3 separate regions of the Homo sapiens genome follow, and regions 1 and 3 are each linked to region 2. Evidence: fine-mapped expression QTL. A gene starts in region 2. Each other region holds a variant in brackets. All regions are shown on one strand. Distances are from middle to middle. Region 1 overlaps LINC02137 (long intergenic non-protein coding RNA 2137). Region 2 holds the start of LINC02137 (long intergenic non-protein coding RNA 2137). Region 3 holds the start of SPMIP8 (sperm microtubule inner protein 8).

What was found.
Region 1: its variant is fine-mapped to the expression of LINC02137 in nucleus accumbens (GTEx, PIP above 0.99). The same link has a PIP of 0.9 or more in caudate.
Region 3: its variant is fine-mapped to the expression of LINC02137 in cerebellum (GTEx, PIP 0.97).

What each region holds. Positions count from the first base shown.
Region 1 is chr16:58,458,129-58,468,633 of GRCh38, reverse strand. It overlaps LINC02137 (long intergenic non-protein coding RNA 2137), which reads right to left. Exons shown (of 4, transcript NR_187253.1): 3 at 7,052-7,163; 4 at 5,773-6,480. It also overlaps a transcript of NDRG4 not described here. Among named protein-coding and RNA genes, the nearest start is that of NDRG4, 37 kb to the left of the region's middle. RefSeq lists an enhancer at 8,975-9,269. The variant G/A (reference allele first, on the strand shown) is at 5,915.
Region 2 is chr16:58,415,745-58,426,728 of GRCh38, reverse strand. LINC02137 (long intergenic non-protein coding RNA 2137) reads right to left here and starts at 5,403. Exons shown (of 4, transcript NR_187253.1): 1 at 5,308-5,403. RefSeq lists silencers at 295-374, 445-544 and an enhancer at 8,752-8,861.
Region 3 is chr16:57,975,282-57,984,068 of GRCh38, reverse strand. It overlaps SPMIP8 (sperm microtubule inner protein 8), which reads right to left and starts at 7,525. Exons shown (of 8, transcript NM_199456.3): 1 at 7,435-7,525; 2 at 6,030-6,254. The coding sequence starts at 6,252. The variant A/G (reference allele first, on the strand shown) is at 4,608.

The DNA of each region.
Region 1 (10,505 bases), 42 kb before region 2:
TTCTCCTGCCTCAGCCTCCCCAGTAGCTGGGACTACAGGCACACACCACCAAGCCCGGTTCATTTTTGTATTTTTGGTAGAGACGGGGTTTCGCCATGTTGACCAGGCTGGTCTAGAACTCCTGACCTCAGGTGATCCACCCATCTGGGCCTCCCAAAGTACTGGGATTACAGGCGTGAGACAACTGCTCTGGCCTAACACTGTTAATGAGGGCTATTATTCCCATTTTACTGATAAGACTGAGGCCGAAAGAAGGTAACAATTTGCCCAGGAGCTGAGAAGCACAGGGGAGACCCCGAAATTCACATCCTCTGATTCCAAAACCCCCGCCTTCCTTGTCCCTGTTGCAGCAAGACCCCGCTGAGGCGCCTGGAAATGGCCTCGACAAGCATTCATGATTTACAAAGCCTCCAGAAGGACCCCAACAGCCTCCTCTTCTCTCCAGAACAAAAAGACATGCTGGATCTGGGCATGACAACCCATGGGTCTCCTTCTAGTCCCACATGTGAGGGGGCACCTGGCCTTCCCCATGATGTCAGAGCTGTGGGTGTCTGGCTGGAAGGGCCCCACCCCCTGAGGCCATGCCTGACTCACAGGAACCTGAGACCTAAGTAGGGTCCCCCAGAGACACAGCTCAGAGAGGCCTGGACTGTTGTGAGAACCCAACGAAGGAACTGGAACACCCTGCGGGGAGGGAATCTGGAAACTGGAGCACAGTGGGAGGAGAAGGAGCCCCCAGCACAGTGATGGAGTGCACTCGGGAGGCGGCCTGAGGACGCCAGCTCCACGACTGTCATCAACTATCCGCCCGCCAGAAGCTGCACTCGACGTCTTGCACACGCTCACACACCTAATCTCCAAAGATCCCAGCCAGGTAGGCACCACGACGATCCCATTTTACAGATGAGGAAAATGAAGTGTGGAACGGCTATTAGACTGTCCCAAAGCCAGGCAGTTAGAATGCCATATGGGACAACTCCCGGCTCAGGGCTGGGTTCTGAATCCAGTGCTGCCTCTTCTGAGAAATAGGAACATGAGGAAGTCACTGACTTCACTGGCAAGACAGGCAAGATAATAAAATAGGAGAATGTGAAAAGTATACAGAACTAAATCAATTTTTTTTTTTTGAGACAGAGTCTTGCTCTGTTGCGTAGGCTGGACTGCAGTGGTGCAATCTTGGCCCACTGCAACCTCCCTCTCCCAGGTCCAAGTGATTCTCCTGCCTTAGCCTCCCAAGTAGCTGGGACTACAGGCGTGCGCCACCACACCCAGCTGATTTTGTATTTTTAGTAGAGATGGGGGTTTCACCACGTTGGCCAGGCTGGTCTTGAACTCCTGACCTCAGTGATCTGCCTGCCTTGGCCTCCCAAAGTGCTGGAATTACAGGTGTGAGCCACTGTGCCCAGCCTTCAATATGAGTTTTTAAAATTCAGTAAAAATTTCCTAAGGCTGATGTCGGGGCAGGGAGTTAGAGGCCTCTACAGAATTATCCTAGAGACGTAGATGCCGAGTGGGCTGTGTGAGCCTAGCCTCAGTCAGCAACCCTTGAGCATTTGCTGTGTGCCACCACAATAAAGTGGCCACCTCCCGGACTGTGACCTGCTTGTTATCCAATGGGGGAGATGGGTCAAATCTCACAGACGCAGGAAAGCAGGGATAAAGGAGGGTGGGGGCAGATCCAAATGCTCTAGGTGCCAACCAGCCAGGACAGGTGGGGCCCAAGAGGTGCCCACCAGGGTCTAGGTCCCAACCACGTGTGTCGCCTACACTATCTCAGCAAGCCTTACACCATCTCTTAGAGACAGGGGCCAACAGTTCCATCTTTAAGATGAGAGGGCTGAAGTCTGAGAGGTTAAGCAACCTGTCTGAAGTCACACAGCTGGCTACTGATGGGGTTGGAGTTAGAATCCCGATCTGTGAGAAAAGGAAGAGGACAGAGAGGGAAGTCTGTGAAGACCACAAAATAGCAACAGAGGGGATGGGTTGTCTCCCAGGGCCAGGTTGCAGGTACAATGGGGGCGGAGCCTGTGACTGATGACAGTAACTGAGAGGGGCCTCATCCACCCTGGCCAGGGACTTAGAAAGCCCGCCAGAATCTGGTGACCCCATCTGGTGGGGGAAGAGGGGTCCTGACTCCTCTATCCAGGAGATGAGAGAACAGTGCATGGGGTCTCCAAAGCCTAGACCCCTGCTTGAGCCCCCCACACATGTCTCCTGTGAGCATTTCTCATCCAGGCCCTTTGGGGGCAGGAAGAGTTGGGGAAGAGAGGAACCAGGAGATCTGTTCACCATGCAGAGCTCTAAAAACCCATGGTGGGGGCTGGGTGCGGTGGCTCACGCCTGTAATCCCAGCACTTTAGGAGGCAGGGGCAGGTGGATCACTTGAGGTCAGAAGTTCGAGACCAGCCTGGCCAACATGGCGAAACCCATCTCTACTAAGAATACAAAAATTAGGCATGCATGGTGGCGCGTGCCTGTAATCCCAGCTACTTGAGAAGCTGAGGCACGAGAATCCCTTGATCCTGGGAGACGGACGCTGCAGGGAGCCGAGACTGTGCCACTGCACTCCAGCCTGGGCGACAGAGTGGGACTCCATCTCAAAACAAAACAAACAAACAAAACACCCATGGAACCGCAAGCCTTCCCTCCAGGGGGTTAACAAGTTCAGTGGCCTGCGCGGTTCCCTTCCAAGTTGGGTGAGCTGGGCCTGCCTCAAGTGAGCTCCACAAAGAAAAAGTTGGCAAGGGATTGGAGGGGGTGCCAGCCCCGTGGCTAACTGGGCTCAGCGCTGGAACTTCTGAGCACCCAGTCAGTTTCCAGTGTCCCAGGAACAGCTTCCACCTTTCCTTCTCTACAAGTCTGTCACGAGCTATTGCTGATTTATTTATTTATTTTTTTGTAAAGATGGGGTCTCGCTATGTTACCCAGGCTGGTCTTGAACTCCTGGCCTTAAGCGATCCTCTGGCCTCAGCCTCACAAAGTGCTGGGATTACAGGCATGAGCCACTGCGCCTGGCCTGCTACTGCCGATTTAATAAAACCTCACCCAACGTACCCCACCCCCACCTTCTAGCCCCCTCCCCCGCAACACACACGCACATTCCAGGCCATTCAGCCTCCATACCTCTCCCCGAACAAGCCTCTCTCACACCCCAGAGCATGGGCCATTCCCTTGATCCTGAACCCATAATGCCACCTCCTTCTTCATTAACAAAAATTGTTTTTCGAGGTCTTCAAAAGCTGCCCCCGACTCGGATTCCACCGTTTCCTGAGCGCACCCACAGACGGCTGCCCCTTCCAGCCTTGTAACAGGGCTCCGGGGCTCTGCTCCCTCATCGGACATTAAGGTCCTGGAAGGCAGTGATCAGCCCCCTCCCCCAGGTGTCGGAGGACACTTACTGGAATCTGTGCTCATCTGACATACACGGATGGAGCACCTATAAGTCCCAGAGCTGGAGGAAACCGGGTTGCTTTCCTTTCCTCCTGTCTGGGTCTCTCCACACCGGGGAGAACACAGAAGTCACTCCTCGAATCCTCCCCCCCGTCCCTGCTCCCTTTCCCACCTCCTCTTCCTGACCGTTCGCTCTTGCTCTCCAGCCACTGCCCCCTGGATGTGAGTTTCCAGCAGGGCAACTGATCACTTCTCCAGAGGAGCCCCAAGGCTGAGGGTCCCCAGTCAGTAGGGTCCAATCTGGCTTCCCACTTCCCAGGCCACTTGGCGTCGCCTCCACTCCCAGCAAGAAACTTCTCCCCCAGAGAAAGACGGCTCAGATTGTCACAGGGCGCAGAAATAAGAGGTCCATGGCGCGGGTCCTGCCAGAAGCCCACGGGTCCTTTCTTAGGGGACAAGCGACACTGATTGGAGGGCAGGAGCCCTGAGCTAGCTTTCAGGGTCCTAATCCGAGCTCCGCTGGTCAGAGACCCCATGGGGCCACCCCCTGACCGGTGCTCCCGCAGCCCGGACGCCAGCGCCAGGGACTCGCCACAACCTCAAGTCCTCTCCCGGGGCTGGGCTCCGCACACAAACAGGTAGCACAAAACTAGGACTTAGTTGGGGTCCGCACCCCTTCCTGCTCAGACCCGAGCCGCCCCAGTCCCCGGCCGCCGCGCCCGGAGTCCGCTCCAACTCGGAAAGTGGCGGCCGGCTGCGGGGCAGGCGGGCGGTACCTGTGAGCAGCTCCAGCCGGTGTCCCAGCACCTTCATCTCGGCGCCCGGCGCGGCCCGGCTCTGGGTGGCGGCGTCGGGGCAGCGCGCTCGGCCGAGCCGGGGAGAGGAGCGCGGGAGACCCGGAGCGGAGCGGCAGGAGAGCGCGGAGCGAAGCGGCAGGAGCAGCTCACAGCCAGGAGCGCTCTCCCGCCCCCAACGCCGCGCTCCCCCCTCCAAAACGGTTTAAAAAAATCCACCAATTGCATGGCCGCGCACCCCCAAAAAGGCACCCGCCGCCACCTGGTCCCGGTGAACTCCAGGAGGCGGAGGAAGGGCGCGGGGTGGGTGCGGTGACACCGTGGGAGGTGGTCCCCCGTGCCCGCCGCCCGAACAAAGAGACCCCGCCGCCTCCGGGCGTCGCGGTGGGGGGTCGCGGACGGCGGCTGGGGGTCCCCAGCGCGGCCGGGAAGGCGAGGAAGGAGAGCGGGAGCCGCGGGGAGGAGGGGGCGCCGCCCCCGCGGAGGCGAAATGGGGCGGGAGCGAGTCGGTGCGGGACTCGCGGGGCTAGGGTCGTGCGTGGGGCTGGGGTCGTGCTCGGGGCTGGGCTGGGCTGGGCGGGGACGCGCGCAGCAGCCGCGGCGGCGAGAGAAGCTGGCCCTGGGCTCAGGGGCGAGGGCGCCGCCGACTCACCGCGGAGATGCGGACGAGACAGACGCGCAGGCGGGGAGCGGGGCTTCGGCGCCGCCGACGCGCGGGTGCAGGTGCGGGCAGCCAGGAGCCCCTCCGCGTGCCCGCGGCTGCAGGGGCGGAGGCCGGGCTGGGGGCGGTGCGCCGCGGGGGCGTGCCCGCGTGGGTTTGGCGGGTGTGGGCGCTCGGCCCGCGGGGCGGTGCCGGGCCTGGGGCTAGTCCCGGACGGACCGCGGTCCCTCGCGCGTGGCTTCCGCCTTCTGCGCGGCTGGGGTGCCCGGTGGGCGGGCGGGAGGGCGAGCGGGGACCGCGACGCGGAGCCTGGGGGACACCCCGGTCGATCCGCGCCCCCGCCGACTTCTCACCCGCTCCGCCGCGCGGACTGTGCTGGGTGCGCTGCGAGGCCCTGCCCGCCCCTCCAGGCCCCCTGTGGCCGCGCGGCGTCGGGTTCCCGGGGGAGGGGACGGCGCTGCCGTAGTCTTTGTTTAGACTCCCAAGGGGAACCTTAGACCTGCAGAGACATCCCCATCCCAGCGCCCCTGCGCCTGCTGCTTCGCGCTACCCGCCGTCGCCGCCTGGGAACCGAGGGAGAAAAGCCCTTAGGGTCGGGAAGAACCAGGGGCTCAGGGGCCTCTGGGGCGTCGTCCCCCTCCCCCCGTTTTCGGAGCCCGAGGGTGTCCTTGAGGAACTTGTGCAGGAGTGAGGAGGGACATCCCCTAGCAAAGGTGTCCTGGTCCCTCAGGGTCCCACCCTGAAGGTGGGGAGGTCTCTGCTCCCCTCAATTCACCTCCATTATCTGAGCGGGAAAGGGAACATGGGGACCCGTCTCTTCCTCAGGCTCATCCTGCTCGGGGCCCCGAGGCACTCCTCCCTCCTGCCACTCCCCTCACCAGCCCTCCTTTGGTCCCAGATGAAGTCCCACTCCAGGGAGTACGGAAATCTGATGGCCTGAAAAATTTTATTTGGACAAGACAGCTAAAGACAGGGCTCCTGGAGAACCGGGTTCTATTCAGGCTCGGCCGGTGACCTTGGGCGGGGCTCTGCTCCTCCCTGGGTTCCAGTCTTTTCCATGCAGGACTCT[G/A]TTGGACCAGGTCATCTTGGAGGTCCAGGATGGCGGTGGGGTTGGGGGTGCAGAGGGGCCTGCAGGCTTCCGGGCCCTTCCGCAGACCTCTCTCTGGGCTGGTTTGCGGAGACGCCCTGGTTTTCCTTTCCCCCAGCTCCAGGGGGCTGTGGCCGTGAATTAACCGATCCACCAGCTGAGGAAGCTGGTAAGATTTTGGTGGCCCCAGATGGGGCATATGTTCCCGCTTGGGTTACAGCTTTGTCCTTGGGTTACCCCTACAGCTTGGGGTGCAGTGTATAAATCACAGGAGGCAGCAATTTGGGTTCCTTGCTCTGCGGAAATCCCTGCCTCTCAGTTTCCTCCTTTGCAAAGGTGTGGAGGGAGGTCGGTGATGACAGAAGTGAACCTCTATTTCTGACACCTCCACCAGGCTTAGTTCTATATATAGCAGCCAGGAGCCAGTCCTTAGGAGCACAGGCTGGTCCTACAGCTTCCTGGCTGTGGAATGTTTGGCAAGCTGCTTACCCTCTCTGAGACGTCATGTCATACTCTGTGAAATTGGGATGATGCTGACCTCAGGATTCCTGTAAAGATTAAATAACAGAATATAAAGAAAATGCTTAATATAGTGCCAGACGCATGACTTAAGTTTAAGTGTTCAATACATGGTCATTATTATTATTCATGATGAAATTGTTATTATCGCATGAGAGATTCTTTCAGGCTTACCTGAGTCCTACCCTTTTCAGTCATTTCAGACTTTGTCATTGGACAAAATTAATTGTTGATGTTCTAGTGACATAATTCACGGGGCCTAGGCTGTTCTGCAGGCTGCCTAACAGGAGCTTTGACACTATGACACGCCTGTCTGAGACATGGTGTCTGCAGTGGCCTTGAACTCATGCAGACTATCCATGTAGCTCAGATAGTTCATGAACTCCTGTGAGCATTCCAGTGAGTCAGGTTGTGGATTTGAACTCCTAAAAGTGGAGACAGTAGGGCCGGGCGCGGTGGCTCATGCCTGTAATCCCAGCACATTTGGGGGCCGAGGTGGGTGGATCACCTGAGGTCAGGAGTTCAAGACCAGCCTGGCCAACATGGTGAAACCCCATCTCTACTAAAAATACAAAAATTAACTGGGCGTGGTGCACATACCTGTAATCCTAGCTACTCAGGAGGCTGAGGCAGGAGAATCACTTGAACCCAGGAGGCGGACGTTGCAGTGAGCCGAGATCGCGCTGCTGCACTCCAGCCTGGGTGATAGAGTCTAAAAAATACATAAATAAATAAATAAAAGTGGAGACAATAGATGAAGAAGAAACGTAATCGTGAGAGTCCCCAGGGCTATTGCATCAAACAAAGGTGCATAAGGAAGAGGTAGGTTGAGGAGGCCCTGACCCTTCTGGAAACATCAGTCATGACAGGCAGCGGAGTCACTACTGAGTCAGCAGAAGGGCAAGCTCTGGGTCCCCTGTGCCGCTGGGCTCTCTTCATCTTCAGCACTCTGCGGAGGAGGGGTGATGTTTGGGAGCAGGTTGGATTAACAGTGAAAAGCAGAACAGTGCAGAGAGCCAAGCTGTTGCCTGGGACAGGAGGCCTCTAAGAAAGTGTCCCCCCAGCCTTGCTCCTAATTACTTGAAACATGCTTCCTAAGTCACTGCCTTGTAAAATGGGCAGAAGATCACTGGCCTGCACCCAGGTCGGAGATGAGATAACCTTTCTAAAGATCTCAAATGAGCCTTCACTTCTCATCTGTAAACTCAGGCTGATATATCTAGTCAGGGTGTTTAATTGCAAGAAATAGAGACCTACTCTGGCTAATTGAAGCAGAAAAAGGCTTTGTTAAAAGGAGGATAGGCCGGGCATGGTGGCTCACCCTGTAATCCCAACACTTTGGGGGGCTGAGGCGGGCAGATCACTTGAGGTCAGGAGTTCAAGACCAGCCTGGCCGACATGGTGAAACCTCACCAAAAATACAAAAATTAGCCAGGTGTGGTGGCACACGCCTATAATCCCAGCTGCTTGGGAGGTTGAGGCAGGAGAATTGATTGAACCCAGGAGGCAGAGGTTGCAGTGAGCCGAGATCCTGCCACTGCACTTCAGCCTGGGCAAAAGAGTGAGATTCCGTCTCAAAAAAGAAAAAGAAAAAAAAAAAAAAGGAGGGTGGGCATCTCTTGGAATATCAGGTGCCAGGCCTGACACTGCTATGTTGGCCTGATGTTAAAACCACTACTGCCATCCCCCAGCACAGAAGCTGCAGCCAGTGCCACCCCTGGACGTGGTCACTGGGCACTGCCATCAGGAACTCAGCTGCTGCTTCCCCAGTCCTCACCGCAGTGGATTCTGTGTGGTCTTGGCTTCCTCGTGCCACTAGTTTCTAATTAACAACCAAGAACAGAACACGCCCAGGTGCAGTGGCTCACACCTGTAATCCCAGCCCTTTGGGAGGCTGAGGCAGGAAGATTGCTTGAGCCCAGGAGTTCAAGACCAGCCTGGGCAACATGGCAAAACCCTGTCTCTACAAAAAATGCAAAAAGTAACCAGTCATGGTGATACACGCCTGTGGTCCTAGCTACTCAGGAGGTTGAGGCAGGAGACTCGCATGAACCTGGGAGACGGAGGTTACAGTGAGATGAGATTGCACCACTGCACTTCAACCTGGGTGACAGAACAGACTCTGTCTCGGTAAATAATAAATAAATAAATAAGTAAATAAATAAATAAATAAATAAATAGAATGGGATGTCTGATTGGAGGAGCATAGGTCATATACTTTGGCAAAGCTGTAAGCAAAGCTGGGGAAAGATGTTTTCAGTTTCTCTAGTGGGAGGTGGGCTCTGCCTTGTAGAAAGGGTGTGTCAGCTGCTGGGGGCCAAGAGTGACCAGTGACCACTTCAGATAACAATGGTCTTGTGAAACTGTTGTAAGATGATGCACATGGACATTTGACTTGGAGCCTGGCGTGGAGGGAACATAGGGATCTCAACGATCCCTCGTTGTTGAGATTCATACCACACTGTAAATGTAAACCAGTGGTACTCCTCCATTCTTTAAATTTTTGATTTTTCAGCAGGTAAAAGACAAAAGGACCTTGAAAACAGTATGGCTTGCTGCCCTTCCACAGACAGAGGCAGCTCCAGTCCTGCTGCCAGGAGGACAGGTGACTGGGTTTTTCCATTGTGGTGATGAATTGGGCTGAGTCACCATCCCCTCGTGACCATGACTGGGAGCAAGTAGAAAGAACCAGCTGATGGAGTCAGAGGTGCAGATGATGAACCTGGGGCCAATGAATCTTCTTCCCTTAGCAGGGGTGGGGGAGATAGGAACTGTCTCCCCCTCCCCAGTAACACTCCCTACTTCCGAATCTTGAGCCACACTCAGGGAGAGAAGAGAGGCTCCTTTCTTTCCTTTCATAGTATTGATTGAGCGTCTTTTTGGTGTTGTGGGGTTCAATGGAGAACAGAGCTGATCAGGACATTGACCTTGACTTTAAGGTTCATGCACTGATGGAAACCAGCTCAGAGTCCCATAATCTCAGTACCAGGCCGACTCTACTAAGATGAGTAATTGATGTTACCATAGAGTGCAGTGGAGGCCTAGGGGACTCAGCAAGGGCTTCCTGGAGGAAGAGGCATCTGAGCCCCCAAGAGGTGGAAGATCAGCAGATGGAGATGGGAGGCGGACGAAAGGGAGAGAACATCCATCCATCCATCCATCCATCCTACACTGGATCAGCCAGGCCCTGTGCTGAGCTCAGGGAGGCACAGAGCTAAGCACATTGCAGCCCTGCCCCTCAATGGGAGCTCCTGAATTGAGGTGGAGAGGCCTGGGTATGCATGAGTAGATGGTGAGGAAGCTGGAACGAGGAAGCGGGTGGGGAAGAGTTCCCGGCCTCAGCCTGGCTCTGGAATTTCACCAGTTACCAGATTATCTGCTCCCTGCTCCTGGGCCACCGTGGACGACTCACTGGTTTTATTGCAATCCCCTTTCTCCCATGATATGTAAGGGCCCTTTGCCCTGCAGGGCCAGCCCCTTGCTATCCTGGTAACTCTGGACACCCCACTGTCTCCTCGGTTCCTGAGGACAGTAGAGCCCCCTCCAGTGCCATTTGCAAATGTCCCTCCACTTCCCCTGGAAACTTTAGCAGGCTCATGGAAACCCAGTTGGTGCTGAGTCAAGGCAAGAGGTGGAACTGATAATATTGTTTACAAATTATAATAGTTATGTATATTCAATGCATAAACCTTATGCAGGGGGAAAATAAAAATCACTAATAATTCCACTGCCTAACAATAGGCAGTGTTAACATTTTGGGGGTATGATCTTCAATGCTTTATATATATACATACGCACATACACACACACACACACACACACCACACATATACACACACACACACAAACACACACATATATACAGTGGCCCTCTGTGTCCATGGGTTCCACATCCATGGATTCAACCAACCACAAATCAAAAATATTAAAAAATAAAATAATGTAACTATAAAGTAATGCAAATAAAAAACAATACAGCATAACAACTATTTACACAGCATTTACATTGTATTAGTTTTTTTGTTTTTTTTTTTTTTTAGATGGAGTTTTTCTC
Region 2 (10,984 bases):
GTGGTGTGGTCTTGGCTCACTGAAACCTCCAGTTCTCAGAGTCAAGCAATTCTTCTGCCTCAGCCTCCCAAGTAGCTGGGATTACAGGCACCTGCCACCAAACCCGGCTAAATTTTATATTTTTAGTAGAAACGGGGTTTTGCCATTAGCCAGGCTGGTCTCCAATTCCTGACCTCAAGTGACCCACCCTCCTCAGCCTCCCAAAGTGCTGGAATTACAGGTGTGAGCCACCTTACCTGGCCCTCCCCTCATTTATAACCATTTCAGGTCAAACTCTGGTCCTTCCCAAGTCCCTGGAACTTCCTAGTTTCTTCAAGGCACAGATTCTGCTGTTTGGGGAAGTGCGTGGAAATTCTAGCTCACTTATTTCAGCCACAGTGGTCCGCCAGATGAACCTGTGGTTTGCTACTTCCTCACCCTGAACTGTAATCTCCGAGCTGGCCTTTCTGCCCTCTGCATGTGTCTCTGAGACTGAGGCTTTGTGGTGGGACGTGTGGCAGGAAGAGGAGGGATGAGGCCTTGGGCACGGGTACCCTCTATCATGGGCACTGTGATCTCAGCCCTACATTCCCCTGATAGACACTGCCTCGGGTTGCATGCCTGGCAGATGGTTTTTCTGAGAACACCACCCAGTAACAAACAAAACAGGTGTGTGTCTTTTCATTTTACTCTTGGTTCTTAGTGTTTTAGGAAAAAAGTATCTGGATTTGAGTATCTGAAATATTCGCATGTTTTACTGAGAAAACAAGGAACCTCTGATTTTCTTGGGAAACAATGAGAGTCGTCACTTCCTTTTAGTGCTTTTAAGCACAAGTTGAAACAAGGAAAACACAATTTTGATTAGTTCTCATTGTCTTTTTGAATGCCTGCTTCACCCTTCCTAGAGCTACAGTGGTATGAAATTAACACTGCTCCCTCCCAGCACTTTGGGAGGCCAAGACGGGTGGATCATTGGAAGTCAGGAGTTCGAGACCAGCCTGGCCAACGTGGCGAAACCCCGTCTTTACCCAAAATACAAAAATTAGCCATGTCTAGTGGTGTATGCCTTTAAGTCCCAGCTACTTGGGAGGCTGAGGCACCAGAAATGCTTGAACCTGGAAGATGGAGGTTACAGTGAGCCGAGATCGTGCCAGTGCGCTCGAGCCTGGGCAACACAGCAACACTCTGTCTCAAACAAACAAAAAAAGTGTAGCTCGATTCAACCCACCAGGCCCTCCATGACATGTCCCACCCCTTCGCTGCTCTATCCTCTTCTCCTCCCATCCTCCCCCCTCCACTCAGGCAAGTTCCTGCCTCAGGACCTTTGCACATGCTATTCCCTCTGCCTGGAACACTCTCCCCTCAGGCGTCTGCATGTTTCCCTCCCTCCTTCAAGTCTTTGTGCTCCAATGTCACCTTCTCAGGGAAGCCCCCCGACCACCCTCTGTAGAACTGCAGCCCCCACCCTGTCTCAGCCCTCCTAAGCCCAGCCCTGCTTTATTTTCCTCCATAGCACTTGTCACCTCCCAATAGATCACATTTTCAGTTTGACTGTCTACTCCCTTTCTAATGGAAACTCCAGGAGGGCAAGGATTTTTGTGCATTTTCTTTACCACTGTTAACCAGTCCTAGAACCATCATTGAATCTGAGGCTTTAGAGAAGAGTTTTGCATCATGTATCCAAAATCTTATAAACATGGCCAGGCTCAGTGGCTCACGTCTATAATCCCAGAACTTTGGGAGGCCGAGGCGGGTGGATCATTTGAGGTCAGGGATTCGAGACCAGCCTGGCCAACATGGTGAAACCCCGTTTCTACTAAATACAAAAAAAAAAAAAAAATAGTGGGGCATGGTGGCGCATGCCTGTAATCCCAGCTACTCAGGAGGCTGAGGCAGGAGAATCACTTGAACCCAGGAGGCAGAGGTTGCAGTGAGCTGAGATTGCGCCACTGCACTCCAGCCTGGGCAACAGAGTGAGACTCTGTCTCAAACAAACAAACAAAAAAAAAACCAAAACCAAATCTCATAAACATGCTCATGATTCCACCCAGCTATTCTACATCTAGGAATTTATCCTTTGGAAGTAATCACAGATGTGCACAAAGATATGGTTAGAAATGTCACAAGGGCAAAACACTGGAAATAATGAGAGCTGGCATTTAATTACCACTTACTGTGTGTAGACCTTGTTGCAAACATTTTATGTGTATGAACTTATTTAAACTTCACAGCAACCCTAGAACCTGCTGATTATCGTCTGTATTTTACAAGTGAAGAAACAGGCGGAGGGTTTGAAGAGTATGTAGTAAAGCCAGGATTCAAAGTTGTGTTTCTTGTGTCTGAATCAAGAGCCCATACTCTTTTTATTTTCGAGAGAGTTTTGCTCTGTTGCCCAGGCTGGAGTGCAGGGGCGCAATCCCAGCTCACTGCAACTTCTGCCTCCGGGTTCAAGCAATTTTCCTGCCTCAGCCTCCTGAGTAGCTGGGATTACAGGTGCCTGCCACCACGCCCAGCTAATTTTTGTATTTTTAGTACAGATGAGGTTTCACCATGTTGGCCAGGCTGGTCTCGAACTCCTGGCCTCATGTGATGCACCCGCCTCAGCTTTATCAGATTCTCAAAGACCTCCAGGAACCAGGGTTGTAGAATAATTTTCCTACATAAGCAAAGTTAGGAATTGTCAATGCTGCTTTTAGCATAGTCTTAAAAAAATTTTTTACCTTCCTTCCTTCCACATAAGCTTCCCTTTTCTTGTCCCTAAATGATGTTAAGAATCTGGAATGTCACCATAGATGTATCTTTAGGCCAGGTGCAGTGGCTCATGCCTGTAATCCCAGCTTTTTGGGAGGCTGAGATGGGAGGACTGCTTGAGGCCAGGAGTTCAAGACCAACCTGGTCAACCTAGTGAGAGCCCATCTTTACAAAACAAAACAAAATCCAAGAATCTTTAATGACTTGGAAAGAGCTTTGTTGCATATAGTTAACTGCAAAAGGCAGGTTACTAAAGAGTCTACGTTCTGACCACATTTTCATTAAAAATTTATCTCTACCTATATGCATGGTAAAATGACTCAAATTGACTATGTATGTTAATATCGCCACTTCTAGGTAATGAAATTCTGGGTGTTTTAAAACTTATTTTCTGGTCTTGTTTGTATTCATTACATGTTTACAGGAATGTTACTTTTGTCATTAAATATACTTTTTGTTTTTAGAAAAAGGCAGACTTTGGGCAGAAAATTTGGTAGTCCCTATCAGAATTTTAAGAGATGTGGGTCTTGCTATGTTGCCCAGACTGGTCTCGAACTCTAGCAGTCCTCCATCTCTGCCTCCCAAAGTGCTGGCATTATAGGCATGAGCCACCGCGCCCGGCCCCCTATCAGAATTTTAAATGTACTTACTCTATGCTCCATCAATTCCACCTTTCCAGAAGTCTGCACTACAGAAATCCTTGCACATGCGGCTGCATGTAAGTCCTGTGACGTTCACCGTAACGTTGTGAAAATTTATGAACAGCCCAAATCCTTCAGAGAAGTTGAGTGGTTAAATAGAATATGATCTTTCCCTACTCTGAAAACCTCTGTGGTTGTTAAACAAGAATAAGGTAGATAGATCTCCGAGATATTGTTAGGTAAAAAAGGGAGGGCACAGAACAGAATGTATAATAGGATCCAACCTACATAAAGGACTACATGTGAGCATGAAGGCGTTGAAAGGAACTGGAGGGAAGCCATCTGTTTGTTGATGTTGTTACCTCCCGGAGCTGGGTGTGGGTGTGGGAGGCGATGGTGAAGGGGACTTGTTTTGTTCTGGTTACTTGAATCTTTCAGAAGTCTGTACATGCAGGACCATGTATTATATATGTCATCAATTTAACACAGTAAAAATATGAAAGTTTTAAAATAAAAGCCCCTAAACTCTAAAATGTTTTCCCCTTACTGAACTGCTCAAGGACTCCATTTGCAAACTGATAGTCTTAGGAAACGGCCATGGGTTTTGGTTACTGTCTAGATAGAAACAGGCTCCATCACTGGGCCGGACACAGTGGCTCACATCTGTAATCTCAGCACTTTGGCAGGCCGAGGTAGGAGGATCATTTGAAGCCGGGAGTTTGAGACCAGACTGGGCAACATAGCAAGACACTGTCTCTATTTAAAAAACAAACAGGCCGGGATTGGTGGCTGACACCTGTAATCCCAGCACTTTGGGAGGCCGAGGCGGGCAGATCACTTGAGGTCAGGAGTTTGAGAGCAGCCTGGCCAACATGGTGAAACCCCATCTCTACTAAAAATACAAAAATTAGCCAGGCGTGGTGGTGCATGCCTGTAACCCCAGCTACTCAGGGGTGAGGCAGGAGACTCGCTTGAACCTGGGAAGCAGAGGTTGCAGTGAGCTGAGATTGTGCCACTGCACTCCAGCCTGGGTGACAGAGTAAGAGTCCGTTTCAAAACAACAACAACAACAAGAAAAAACTGTAAAAAAACAAACAGGCTGTGTCTCCAGCAAAGGACAAATGTTATGTAAACAGTGATGCAGCCATAAGGGGCACTTTTTTTTTTTGAGACAGGGTCTTGCTCTGTTGCCCAGGTTGGAGTGCAGTGGCGCCATCACGGCTCACTGCAGCCTCGACTGCCCAGGCTCAAGCAATTCTCCTACCTCAGCCTTTCTGAATAGTTGGGACCACAGGTGCTGCCACCACACCTGGCTAATTTTTAAATTATTTGTAGAGATGTGGTCTTACTATGTTGCCCAGGCTGGTCTCAAACTCCTGGCCTCAAGTGATCCTCCCACCTCAGCCTCCCAAAGTGCTGGGATTACTGGCATGAGCTGCTGTGCCTGGCCTGGGGCACACTCTTATGTCCTAAGCAAGAACACTAGTTGTAAATATCTTGGAGCGATGTGGAAAGTAAGGGACAAAAGTCAAGTGGGAAATTATGCAAGTGCTGCTGGGCTTACAGCCAGGTGGGATGAAGCATGCCCCGGATAGAGGTAGGAGGGCTGCAGCGCACAGCCAGGTGGGGCTATGGCATCTTAGGCCAAAGCTGTTTCTCCCGGGGCTTTCTCATCCCAGCTCTGAAGCCACAAGCCTGCAAGTCATCTGGAATCCTGTCGTCACCACATCCTCTTGGCTCCCTTCACTTCTTGACATCCCCACAGTTCTCCCTCTGGCCCCAGGCACCTTCATCTCTCACCTCCTTTATCACAGAAGCCTCCCAAGGGGGGTGTCCTGGTTTCCCAAGGCCATCTGTATTAGTCTGTTCTCACACCGCTATAAGGACATACCCGAGACTAGGTAATTTATAAAGGAAAGCAGTTTAATTGACTCACAGTTCAACATGGCTGGGGAGGCCTCAGGAAACTTACGATCATGGCAGAAGGAGAAGCAAATACATCCTTCTTCACATGGCAGCAGGAAAGAGAAGTGCCAAGCAAAAGGGGGAAAGCCCCTTATAAAACTATCAGATCTGTGAGAACTCACTCACTATCACGAGAACAGCACGGTGAAAACCGCCCCCATGATTAAATTACTTCCCACGGGGCCCCTCCCACCACACGTGGGGATTATGGGAACTACAATTCAAGATGAGACTTGGGTGGAGACATCGTCAAACTATATCACCATCCTTCTCCAGCCTGGAATGCCTACACTGTTCCCCATTTAAAGATTTGGCTTCCTGGCTCCCCTGCCTGGATGCTCCAGGCCTCTGTGTGTCCGGTGGCTCCACAGACTACCCAGAGGGCCCTTCTTACAGTGCAGCCACCCCTCTTGCCCCCATTATTTACCACCTCAGCCTGCTTGTCTTCTTCATGGTTCTATCCCTGTCTGAAATCCTCATTGTTACTTGTTTATTCCCGATCTCCCCCACTAGCCAGCATTACTCAAGGGCTTACCACGTGCAGGACACTGCTTTAAGCATTTTACATAGAACCCATTTAGTGCACCTCAAAATCCTACCAGGTGAGTATAATCATGGTTCCCGTTTTACAGATGAGGAAAGTGGGGCACTGAGCTAAGCACCGTACTCCCACGTCACGTGGCTCCAAAATGGCAAAGCTGGGGTTTGAACTTGGGGGCTCCCAGCCCAGAGCCTGGACCCCTAATTACTAAATGATCCTACCTGAAACTACAGATGCACTAAAAACGGACTTTTTTTTGAGACAGCGTCTTGCTCTGTCGCCCAGGCTGGAGTGCAGTGGCGCAATCTCGGCTCACTGCAACCTCTGCCTCCTGGGTTCAAGCCATTCTCATGCCTCAGCCTCCTGAGTAGTTGAGATTACAGGTGTGAGCCACCATGCCCACCTGATTTTTGTATTTTTAGTAGAGATAGGATTATGCCATGTTGGCCAGGCTGGTCTTGAACTCCTGACCTCAGGTGATCCACCCTCCTCCATCTCCCAAAGTGCTGGGATTACAGGCGTGAGCCACCACACCTGGCCAAAAAAACGGACATCTTACTTACTTTTTGAAGATTCAAATTATCTTGAGGGGCAGCCAGTGTCCTGCTCACTCCAGTGCTGGGGAGCAGGACCGCGGGCACCCCTACCCCTACCAAGCTTTTATTGCCTTTAGTGATTTGGGGCATGTGTCTTGACCTGTTTTTCCCTGGACCTAGGATAAACCAGGCTGTTGTTGACAGAGTTCTGGTTTTTGTTGAAGCTCTCAAAATATCGAATCCATAAGCTTGTTTTCCTTATTTAATTCTCACCAGGGTCTCATGGCATGGAGACCCCCCTAGCTAGCACCGATGGCACTGAAACTGTGGCAGTGCCTCTGGTTGCAAAAAATAGGGGATCAACGCCTATTTGGGTTCTATTTTTATTAAAACCCCATTAGCTTGTTTCTATCGGAGCAATTAAAGTGTCGAGGCCTGATGCTCTGCAGGGGCTGTGGAGGAGGCGCTTTCGTGAGAGCAACTGTTCTCAGGCGGAGAACTTTCTTTTCAAAAGGACCCCTGGGGCCTGAAGTCTCAGGCTTATTCTCAGCCCCAGGTGGGTTTTCTTAGTGGATAATTTGGTAACATCCTCTGCAGCTGGGCTTGAGTTAATGAGGTTGAAGATCACCTAATTTTCCCCCTTCCTTTTTTTTTCTTTCTTTGCCTGATTTTGTAACTCACAGTCTAAAGGCTTCCAACCTGTTCCAGCAAATGTTAATTCTGTTCACACCTTGCCAAGTGTGAAATTTCACCCAGCACAGCTGTGCAGACGCATTTCTGTTTCTACCCTGGCACCTTAAAATCAGCTAAACCCACCCAAGCTGGGCTCTGTCCTCATTCCACGCCGGGGTGGGCACAACCTGCTGGCTAGGGTGTGTCCCCATGACACGACTCTGTGCATCTTAACACGTCAGCACACTCTGGAACTTGACAGCTTGCAATTCGGAGGCCATGAATTCAGCACGTGTTAGGCTCCGTGCTCTGTGCTCTGGAGGACTCAGTAGGTCTGGGGTGGGCGCTGGAATCTGTAGTTCTAGCAAATTCACAGGTGGTGCTGATGCAGCTGGCCTGGGGACCACACCTTTGAGAACCACTGTGGTGGGTTTATTTATTTATTTTTTTTGAGACGGAGTCTTGGTCTGTCACCCAGGCTGGAGTGCAGTGGCATGATCTGGGCTCGCTGCAAACTCCACCTCCCGGGTTTAAGTGAGTCTCCTGCCTCAGCCTTCTGAGTAGCTGGGACTACAGGCCACACCACCATGCCTGGCTATTTTTTGTATTTTTAGTGGAGACGGGGTTTGCCATGTTGGCAAGGCTGGTCTCGAATTCCTGACCTCAAGTGATCCATCTTGGCCTCCCAAAGTGCAGGGGGATTACAGGCATGAGTCACTGCAGCCAGTTCCTGTTATGGACTTTTGCTTAAAAGTTACCTTCCCCGGAGGCCCTCCAGTCACACACAGCCTGACTTGGAAGGTGGCCCTGCCAAAGGCTCTCAAGGCAATGTGTATGGCCCGTCCTGGGCTCACACTTGTGATGATCTAATAATGTCCTCCCACTCCCTGACTGTCAGCTCCACCCCTACGGCCAGCTCTATCATATTCATGCCTCAAAAGATCTGCTCTCTGCCTCCTCCCCACTCCCTCATCTCCTGTCACTCTCATCCACACCTCTGCCACCCAGGCCTGCTTTTGTTTCTTAAAGCAGGCCAACCAAGCCACACACTTCTCACCTCCTCTCACTGCTTGGAATGATGACCTCCTCTGGGCTCTTCACCCAGCCAGCTCTGCATCTTTCCTCAGAGAGCCCCTCTTTGGACTCACTAAAGAAGGTCCCTGAAAGCCGGGCAAAGTGGCTCACACCTGTAATCCCAATCTTTGGGAGGCTGAGGTGGGATGATTGCTTGAAGCCAGGAGTTCTAGACCAGCCTGGGCAACATAGTGAGAACTCCGTCTCTATAAAAATTAAGAACAAGAAAAATTAGCCAGATGTGGTGGCACACACTTGTAGTACTAGCTACTTGGGAGGTTGAGGCGTGGAGATCGCTTGAGCCCAGGAGTTCAAAGCTGCAGTGAGCTAGGGTTGTGCCACTGCACTCAAGCCTGAGTGACAGAGCGAGACTCTGTCTTTATTTACACATGCCCTTTAATTCACCTCACAGATCTTATTGTAATCCCGTTTATAGTCCGCCTTGCCCTTTACAGTGTAAACTCCACAGGGCAGTGAGGGATGACCATTCCACTCCTGACTTCAGACCCTCACTGGAGGGGCGAATGAATGAGTGAATAAGTGGGATTAATTTCTGCTGTCAGTGAAATTCCCAGCAGAAGAAGCCAGAAAACAGCCAAGCCTGCCCTGCAGGGGACTGTTTGAACTGTGTAGCCTCTGCTTTCTCGGATTCCCCCTTCCTCCGGACCAACCATGAGCCACCCATCACCTGTTTTGAGCAAGGCAGTTGGGGGTGAGGCAGAGAGAAGGAGGCAAGGGAGTTTTTGCAACAGCCAGAGCTGCAGATTAGACACATGTAATCAATCCGGAGAGCCACACAGTGTTCTGCCAACTGAGATACCCAGATTAAACAGACCAAGGGCCCCTGAGGCAAAATGTCATGCAAAATAACTTTTCAAAAATAGCAGCTTGCAATCTCGAGAATGAGCACGGGTTGTCAATGACATGAGCAGTCTTTTGAAACAGAAGGAGGAGTCCTGTTTTTACTGCAGATAATGGTGATATGACATAGGCATAGGTTGGGCCAATTTTGCCAAAGGAGACACTTAGAAGGGATAGCGAGTCCTATAGAAATGGCGTTGGGAGGACCAGGACTGAAGCGAGAGACGCCTGATAGTGCGGTTGGAAGAGGGGATGGCGAGTCCTATAGAAACGGTGTTGGGAGGACCGGGACTGAAGCGAGAGACGCCTGATAGTGCGGTGGGAAGAGGGGATGGCAAGTCCTATAGAAACGGTGTTGGGAGGACCAGGACTGAAGCGAGAGACACCTGATAGTGCGGTGGGAAGAGGCTGCCCTGGCCTGCTCTGTTGCTCATCGCACAGTGCAGCAGAGCAGAGAAGAGTCGGATCTCAGGATCAGCCTGACCTGGTTTCCAGCCCTGGGCCCAGCACTGGTTGCTGTGTGACCTTCGGCACACACTTAACCTCACTGAGTCTATTTCTTTATCTGTAAAAGGGGGATAACAATAATTCATCTCTTAGGGTTTTTGTGGAAATTAAATGAGATAATACATATAAAATTAGCTGGGCATTGTGGCAGGCACCTGTAATCCCAGCTACTCAGGAGGCTGAGGCAGGAGAATGGCTAGAACCTGGAAGGTGTAGGTTGCAGTGAGCTGAGATGGCGCCACTGCACTCCAGTCTGGGTGACAGAGTGAGACTCTGTCTCCACAAAAAAAAAAAAAAAAAAAAAAAAAAGAACACCTGTAAATCAGTAAAAAGATAAACAATCCAGTAGAACAATGGGTAAAACACGTAAACAGGCATTTCACAAAAGAGGAAGCATAAATGGCCAATGAATATATTTTAAAACCAGGGCCTGTTGTTGGGTGGGGGGAGGGGGGAGGGAAAGCATTAGGAGATATTCCTAATGTAAATGACGAGTTAATGGGTGCAGCACACCAACATGGCACATGTATACATATATAACAAACCTGCACGTTATGCACATGTACCCTAGAACTTAAAATATAATAATAAAAAAAATACAGAAAAAAAAAGAAAAAAAATTTAGCCAGGTGTGGTGTTGCATGCCTGTAATCCCAGTGATTCAGGAGGCTGAGGCAGGAGGATCACTTGAGGCAAGGAGTTCAAGACTAGCCTGGGAAATACAGCAAGATTCTGTCTCTAAATAAGTAAAAGAAGTCAGGTGTGGTGGCATGTACCTATAGTCCCAGCTAGTCGGGAGGCTGAGGTGGGAGGACTGCTTGAGCCTAGGAGTTCAAGGCTGCAATGAGCTATGATCCCACAACTGCACTCCAGCCTGGGTGACACAGGGAGACCTTGTTTCTAAGGAAAAATAAAAAAAGATACTACAAAGAAAATTAAAAGACAAGCTACAGAATGGGAGAATTTTGCAACACAGATAACTGACAAAGGATTAGTATAAAGAACACCTATACTGGCCAGGCGCGGTGGTTCATGCCTGTAACCCCAGCACTTTGGCAGGCCGAGGTGGGTGGATCACCTGAGGTCAGGAGTTTGTGACCAGCCTGGCCAACATAGTGAAATCCTGTCTCTACTAAAAATACAAAAATTAGCTGGGCGTTGTGGCAGGCACCTGTAATCCCAGCTACTCAGGAGGCTGAGGCAGGAGAATCGCTAGAACCCTGAAGGCATAGGTTGCAGTGAGCTGAGATGGCGCCACTGCACTCCAGCCTGGGTGACAGAGCAAGACTCTGTCTCCAAAAAAAAAAAAGATCACCTATAAATCAGTAAAAAGAAGATAAACAATCCAGTAGAACAATGGGCAAAACATGTAAACAGGCATTTCACAAAAGAGGAAGCATAAATGGCCAATGAATATATTTTAAAATGTGCAACTCATTAGTACTCAGAAAAACGCA
Region 3 (8,787 bases), 440 kb after region 2:
AGCCAGGCATGGTGGCGAGCACCTGTAATCCCGGGTACTCGGGAGGCTAAGGCAGAAGGATCACTTGAGTCCAGGAGGTCGAAGCTTCAGTGATCATGCCACTGCACTTCCACCTGGGTGACAGAGCAAGATCGTGTCTCAAAAAAAGAAAAAAAAGGCTGGGCACGGTAGCTCACACTTGTAATCCCAGCACTTTGGGAGGCCAAAGCGGGTGGATCACTTGAGCTCAGGAGTTCGAGACCAGCCTGGGCAACAAGGTGAAACCCTATCTCTACCAAAAATACGAAAAATTAGTTGAGTGTGGTGGCACGCGACTGTAGTCCCAGCTACTAGGGAGGCTAAGGCACGAGGATCACTGGAATCCAGGAGGTGGAGGTTGCAGTGAGCTGAGATTGCGCCACTGCACTCCAGCATGGGCAACAGAGCGAGACTCTCTTAAAAAATTTTTTTTTAATTTGACAACTTAAAAAAAATCTAAGATAAAATAGTATTCACATCTTACCTTTGCAACAGAATAAAACTCCAAAGATTCCAATGTAAAAAGTGAACATGGGCAAATTCTTTTATAATCTTGGGATGGGAAAGGCCTTAATAATTTTAATTAAAAATCCAGAAGCTTTAAAGAAAAGATTGATAAGTTAAATACATAAAAATAAACTTCTACATGGCAAAAACAAATGTCAAAAAACAAATGGAAAAAATATTTCCACTTATTTTACAGATATTAATATTAATTAATATTCCTTAATATTGAAAGAGTGCCTAGAAATCAAGCAAAACAAAAAATGCCAGGTATGGTGGCTCGAGCCTGTAGTCTCAGCTACTCAGGAAGCTGAGGCAGGAGGATTGCTTGAGCCCAGGAGTTTAAGGCTGCAAGTGAGCTGTGATCATGCCACTGCCCTCCAGCCTGGGTGGCATAGCGAGACCTTGTTTTTAATAAATAAATTAACAAGTTGAGGAATTTCTCTATACAAGAACTCCAAGGTGCAGATGGGTATATACAATATGCTACCATTTGCTTTAAAAAAAATTTTTTTTTGAGACAGAGTCTCGCTCTGTCGCCCAGGCTGGAGTACAGTGGCGCGGTCTCGGCTCACTGCAACCTCCGCCACCCAGGTTCAAGCGATTCTCACGCCTCAGCCTCCCGAGTAGCTGGGATTACAGGTGCGTGCTACCATGCCTGGCTAATTTTTGTATTTTTAGTAGAGATGGGGTTTCACCATGTTGGCCAGGCTGGTCTTGAACTCCTGACCTCAAGTGATCTGTCCACCTCAGCCTCCCAAAGTGCTGGGATTACAGGCGTGAGCCACTGCGCCCGGCCTACTGTTTGCTTTAAAATGGTAGACTAAACATAGACTGTTGGAAACAGAGAATATATATTCAGGTCATCACCTTAACCAAATAATCAAACTTAGCATCACAAATAATGTGATAATGAAATTCTGTGCCTCCTGCTGCAGCATTATGGCAAACACGGCATCTGTCGCCTGTGAAAGATTCTGGCCAGCAGTGTTTAACCTGGTGATTCAGATCTCTACACCTAGCTGCTGGTTTACAGAAAATAGATTAACAAGATAAGAAACACCATGAAGAAACAGTGGCTCAAATTCACCATATGGGACTGTCTACAACACAACTGTTAGAGACTTTAAAAAGTCAGTATGATGGTGGGCAATGGAAACTGGGTGGACTGTTTTAGACTAAGACAAAAGACATAACAAGTAACTGAAATACGTAATCCTAGATTGAATTCTTGTTCCAAAAAATCATTTTAAAGCCAGAAAAGACATCTTTGAGGGCAATTGGGGAGATTTTAATATGGTCTGGATATTAGATGTTGTAGAAGTATTGTTAGCTTTCCTAGGTGTGATAATGGTATTGTGTCATGTAGAAGGATGTTTTTGTCATTGGGAGCTGCTTGCTAAAGGGTGTCCAAGAATGTAAGAGAGAGGGCGAGAGAAGCAAAAATATGGCAAAAATCAACTGAAGCAGGAGGAAGGTGGTGGGTACTCATAGTAGTATTCTTTCAACTTTTCTCCATTTGAAAATGTTTATCATGTAAACTAAAAATAAAATCCTGAGGTCTCCGCAATGTATTGACTGAGCGGACCCCCCTCTTGGCTAAGGGGATCCCCCAAAACCTTGAAAAACTGAGTTCCCAGCCATAATGGGACAGGAGGTCAGACATGCTTCATTCCACCCCTGCCTTTTTGCGGTTTAGACACAATAAATGACCAGCATTAATGTTAAACTAGCAATCACAAGGCCAGGTGCGGTGGCTACGCCTGTAATCCCAGTGGTTTTGGAGGCCAATCACTTGAGGTCAGGATTTTGAGACCAGCCTGGCCAACATGGTGAAACCCCATGTCTACTAAAAATACAAAAATCAGCTGGGCGTAGTGGCACACGCCTGTAGTCCCAGCTAGCTACTCAGGAGGCTGAGGCAGGAGAATCACTTGAACCGGGGAGGCGGAAGTTGCAGTGAGCCGAGATAGCGCCACTGCACTCCAGCCTGGGTGACAGAGTGAGACTCTGTCTCAAAAAAAAAAAAAAAAAAAAAAAAAAAAGAGAAAGAGAGAGAGAGAGATTACAAGACTAAGAGAACAGACTCTTTGTGGCAATAAGATACCAAATTATAATAATAATAATAATAATTATTATTATAATAATAATAATTATTATTATTATTGAGACGGAGTGTCACTCTGTTGCCCAGGCTGGAGTGCAATGGCGCGATCTCGGCTCACTGCAACCTCCGCCTCCTGGGTTCAAGCAATTCTCCTGTCTCAGTCTCCCAGTAGCTGGGATTACAAGCACACACTACCACACCTGGCTAATTTTTGTATTTTTAGTAGAGACAGGGTTTTACCATATTGGTCAGGCTGGTTTTGAACTCCTGACCTCAGGCGATCCACTTGCCTTGGCCCCCCAAAGTGCTAGAATTACAGGCGTGAACCGCCACGCCCGGCCAAGATACCAGATTATTAACAGGACCTAAGGCCATGCCAGGCAAGGGTTAAGTCACGCACCCCTACACTTAAAGAATAAACTACAGGCTGGTCGTGGTAGCTCACGCCTGTAATTCCAACACTTCGGGAGGCTGAAGCTGGAGGATCACTTGAGCCCAGAAGTTGGAGACCAGCCCTGGCAACATAGTGTAACCCTGTCTCCACACAAAACAAACAAACAACAACAACAGCAACAAAAATAGCCTGGCATAGTGGTGTGTGCCTGTAGTCCCAGCTACTCAGGAGGCTGAAGTGGCAGGATCACCTGAACCTGGGAGGTCGAGGCTGTAAAGAGCCATGTTTTTGACATTGCACTCTAGCCTGGGTGATGGAGAGAAACTCTGTCTAAAAAAACAAAACAAAACAAAACGAAAAGCAAAACACAAAAATAAATAAGCTATGTTTTAATTGCCATGAGGTTTTTCTTTTTCTCTAGCCCTGGACTTGAGATAAGCAATATTAAAACAATTACAACTCATACAGCTCACAGATGCTGATGAACTGACCCCCTGATCCACCAGCCACAGCTATGCCTTTGATTGCATAAGAGGCTGATTTCAGTAACTTTCTCCAGGTAAGAAGACCACCAACCATGGACTGGTCCTGCCCAGCATACAGAGGCTGCTCACTTGCTGGGCTTCGCGTCCTGAAAAGAACTTTTGACGTATAGGGACTAATTGTAATACATTTAAAGGTTAAGTCTCCACCTCAAAGCGAACATGGGTTGTATGTTACATGCATGTTTGTTCAATATGCCCATGTCAGTACTATCTTCATGAATATTCATAGCTCCTCCTATAAACTATTGAATATGTATGTTTAGCCAACCCTTTGAACATAAAGCTCTTACCCAACCCCTCCTCCTTTGACATGCCTATCTTTGGGCTTAAGCTGGAGGCACACTTTCCAGCCTGTGGGATGGCCACCTGGCAGCTATAACCCCTTGTAAGAAATAAAGTCTCCTTTTCTAAACTTATACATTTATTTTTATTTTTTGAAGATGGAGTCTCGCTCTGTCACCCAGGCTGGAGTGCAGTGGCTCCATCTCGGCTCATCGCAACCTCCGCCTCCCGGGTTCAGGTGATTCTCCTGCCTCAGCCTGGGAGCTGGGATTACAGGCACCCGCCACCCCGCCCGGCTAATTTTTGTATTTTTAGTGAAGATGGGGTTTCACCATGTTGGCCAGGCTGGTCTCGAACTTCTGACCTCACGTGATCTGCCTGCCTTGGCCTCCCAAAGTGCTGAGATTGTGGGTGTGAGCCACCGTACCCTGCCTAAATTTACAAATTTCTGGGTTTTCAGTTAACAGTAATAAAAAGTTGGGGAGCAAAATAACATGTGTTTATATTCCCATTAGTAAACCAGGGAGAGACATCAGAAACTAAGAATGTGGTGGGGGGGTGGTTACCTGTATGCGGGGGCAGTGGGAGTGAGCCTTGTTGCTGTGCATATTGTTATAGCATTTTGAGCTTTGAAGTTCTGACTATTACTTTTACTTAAAGCATATGCTTACAATAAAATACATATCTACATCAGAGCTTTCCTTAAAAATCTAGATTCCTGGCTTCTCTCAGAAGCGGGAAATTGGAAGAACTGGTG[A/G]CCTGGCTGGCCCCTCCAACATAGCACAGTCTGTGGGGAACCCCGTGGCTGCCGTTTAAATAGGGCAGGTGTGGGTGCCCCTTTTCCCTGTGGAGTGTTCCTTCCCCACGGCCTCCCCACCCACTTCCCTCACTTGTGTTTCCCATTAGGGCCCATGTGGCAACTCTGGTAATCTCCGTGCGGTCTCTGACACCCTCAGCCCACCTGTCACCCAAGCTGGAGCCTAGGTATGGGCCTGCACTCCCCCTGTTTGGCCTCCTACCCTGCCCCGCCTGCACCTACTCCTGTTGACTTTATCTGCTAAATACCTTCTAAATCCCTCCACACGCAAGCTCCTCAGTCCATGCGGGGTTATTCACTAGGCCCGTGGGGCTCTTTTGCCCTGAAGGCCCACACGTCTTCCTCTCCTGCATGGGGGCTGTGAGGAGAGGTCTTTCTCTCTCTTTTCCACATACAGAGATGCTTGGGCAGAAGTTACTACTGTTATGACTCCTACCACTGCACCTGTCAACCTCTGCCCAGTTCTCTCTCCATTAATTACAACAGGCTAGGCACAGTGGCTCATGCCTGTAATCTCAGCACTTTGGGAGGCCAAGGCAGGAGGATCGTTTGAACCCAGGAGTTGAGACCAGGCTAGGCAACATAGGGAGACCCTGTCTCTACAAATAATTTTTTAAAATCAGCAGGGCAGGGTGGCACGTATCTGTGGTCCCAGCTATTCGGGAGGCTGAGATGGGAGGATCATTTGAGCCTGGGAGGTCGAGGTTGCAGTGAGCTGTGATCATGCTACTGCACTCCAGCCTGGGCGACAGAGTAAGACACTGTCTTCAAAAAACAAAACAACAATAACAACAATGGCATCAGCAATACTTTTTGAGCACATATTATGTGCCAGGCACTACTCTAAGTGCTTTTTTTTTTGAGACGGAGACTCACTCTTGTTGCCCAGGCTGGAGTGCAGTGATGTGATCTCGGCTCACTGCAACCTCCGCCTCCCAGGTTTAAGCAATTCTCATGCCTCAGCCTCCCAAGTAGCTGGGATTACAGGTGCCTGCCACCACGCCTGGTTAAGTTTTGTATTTTTAGTAGAGATGGGGTTTCACCATGTTGACCAGGCTGGTCTCAAACTCCTGACCTCAGGTTATCAGCCTGCCTTGGCCTCCCAAAGTGCTGGGACTGCGCCCAGCCTCTAAGTGTTTTTTGTGCCTTATCTCCTTCTAACCCCACAACAACACTTTGAGGTAGGCCTTGTCAATTATCCTCATTGTACTGAGCAGTAAACAGAGGCTCAGACCTGGCCAAAGTGTCCTGGGCAGGGAGCAGCAGAGCTGGGACTGGCCTCTTTCATCCTTGCATCTGTCTCCCTCTTTCCTGAAACCATCTGCCCCTTCCCCAAAGGGGATCCTACACTGGTGTCCTAACCTTTGCGGCAGTAGGTGGTGGACTGGCAGTGCTCATCAGGAAGGCAGGCCTTGACGGTGTCCCTGTCCATGTGGCGCAGGGTGGGCAGGGCTGGGTGGTAGAGCTGCTGCTTCACGCCCGCCAGCTGGTTGCGCTGCCGCTCCATGGGAAGCAGGATGGCCGGGGAGGCATACACATGTGTGGAGCCATCGTCCCAGGGCACCAGGTCAATGATGCGGGCCATAGCTGGGGGGCAGAGGGTTCTAAGGGGCTCACCCTGGGCTCATGCTGGCCAGACACCCTTCTCTGCATGAAAACAACCTTGGCCAGTGCCGATGTCTACTTGCCAAACATTTATTTAGCACCTACTGTGTGCCAGGCCATTTTTCTGGAGCTCAGCATGAGGTGGCAGGAACATTCAGATAACAGAAGATAACAGAGACAACCCTCCCACTCCCCTTCCAACACACACATACACACACACACACACACACACACACTCACATTGTGCCATGGCTGTGAGGGAGGTCAGTACAGAGTGTGTGTTTCTGGGGAGGCTGGGGTTAGGACATTCAAGGAATGGTCTAAAAGAGGTGGTATTTGAGTCTATTCGTTTTTTTTTCTTTCTTTCTTTTCTTTTTTTTTTTTTTTTTGAGACAGTCTCACTCTTCTGCTCAGACTGAAGTACAGTGGCGCCATCTTGGCTCAATGCAACCTCTGTCTCCTGGGTTCAAGTGATTCTCCTGCCTCAGCCTCCTGAGGAACTGGGATTATAGGCATCCACCACCACATGTGACTAGTTTTTGTATTTTTAGTAGAGACGGGGTTTCACTGTGTTGGCCAGGCTGGTCTCGAACTCCTGACCTCAAGTGATCCACCCGCCTCAGCCTCTCAAAGTGCTGGGATTACAGGTGTGAGCCACCTTGCCTGGCGAGTCTATTCTTAAATAATAAGCAGGAAAGTGCAGCAGCAAGCGGGTTCAGAATGTAGCTTAGTATGCCGTATACCTCTGGGTGAATAATTATGGACTTGCCCTAGCTATTTACCCAAAATTCTACAGATTGACTCAGAAAGATTTTCAGGAAGGGGAGCAACATGATATATTTAAACTAGAAAAGCATTACTGGATACCCAGTGCCTCCCTTTAAAAAGCAGATAGTCCCAGGAGCCTTTCAGTCATTTACACTTTAGTGAGAATTTGTTGAGACAGCTTGCTTTCTTCCTGACCCTGAGTTAGAGGTGAGAGGTGGAGGTGGAAGCTAGGGTGGCAGGAGGAGAGAGGACCTTAGATCATGGAGGAGCAGGGAGGGGGCATGGTGACAAGGCATGGGGAAGCTGCCTTAGGGGATGTGACTGCCTGGGGAGGGACAGGGAGGGGGATCACGGATATGGGGAAGAGAGCAAGGGCTCCCTGCTTCTGACTCACCAATAGCAGCTACCTTATCTGTAGGGCCCAGGCCCAGGTGCACAGGCTTATAAGGACTTTCAGTTCTTTGACTGCTCAATGGGCAGAAGAGGAAGGGAGGTGGACGAGCCCTTATTATGGACAGCAGCAGAATAAAGGAACATTGTGCACAGACAATGCCCATTGCAGCCTGATTCTGAGGCACCCACTCCTTAGCAACCCTGGCAACTACAGGCTCTAACAAGAGCCTGTGCCAGAATTCCTGTGCTCTGGCCACTCCCTTCCAGCCTTCCTGAAGGCTGTGGTCTCCCAGGCCTTAGCACAGGCCAGGCATCTTGGGAAATGTCAGATGGGGAGCTGGGGTTCCCTGGAGGTAGTCAGGCCAAGGCAGGCCAGAAATGGCTACTGAGCCCACTGCAGGCTGTGTAATCCTGGGCTAATTACCGCCTCTCTCTGGGACTCAAGGCTCTCCTCTGTGTTAGGCAAGGACTCTAGGATCTGCCGTTAGGAGGATCTGGATGCTGAGAGGGATCTCCCCTCCCTGGAACCCTCAGGGAAGAGGGCACTGCACTGTCTGCCAGCCCTTGAGTCTCCAGGAGTGGAGATTAGCTGTGGCCAGTATCCAGGGTAAGCGTGAGGGGATCAGGGAGAGTGGTGGACTCAGCAGGCCAGGGATTAGCAGATGATACTCCACCCTCAGCCCCTGCAGGACTGCAGGCTCCCAGAAAAGCCAGGCTGTGAGTGCCCAAGGCCAGCACCCCAAAGCCCTGGGGCCTGCCCACCATCCTGGTCACAACCATTAGAGACAGACCCCCAAGGTGAGGAAACCCCAGGAGATCCTAACTTATTTGCATATATTGGCATGTGCTTTTGCATATACCTGCCCAGGGGCTGAACCTGATGGGTCTTGGAGCCCCTCCTGTGAAATTCTTGTAGGATTTGTTTCCCCAGTTGCTCCTCCTCCAGTGCTCCATACAGCTTCCAGAACAGCATTCCTAACTGCTACCCCTTACAAAAAACCTTCCCAGAGTTGACTCCACTCACCACCCCACCCCCAATTTATTTCTTGACTCTTTTAAAGTTATAAAATAGAAGAAATACAGAAAGTGAATAAATATCTAATGTAACTAATAATTTACAAAATGAGACCCCGTATAACTACCACCCACCCTGGTCAAGACATGGAGTACTACTTTTAAAACAGTTTATCAGTTTCTTAAAAAATGAAACAGAAATGTACCATATGATTGGGTCATCTGGAAGATTCTACCCCAGGAGGCTTCCCAAGAGAAATGAAAGTATATTGTGAGGCACGATGGCTCACACCTGTAATCCCAGCACTTTGGGAGGCTGAGGTGAGCAGATCACTTGAGG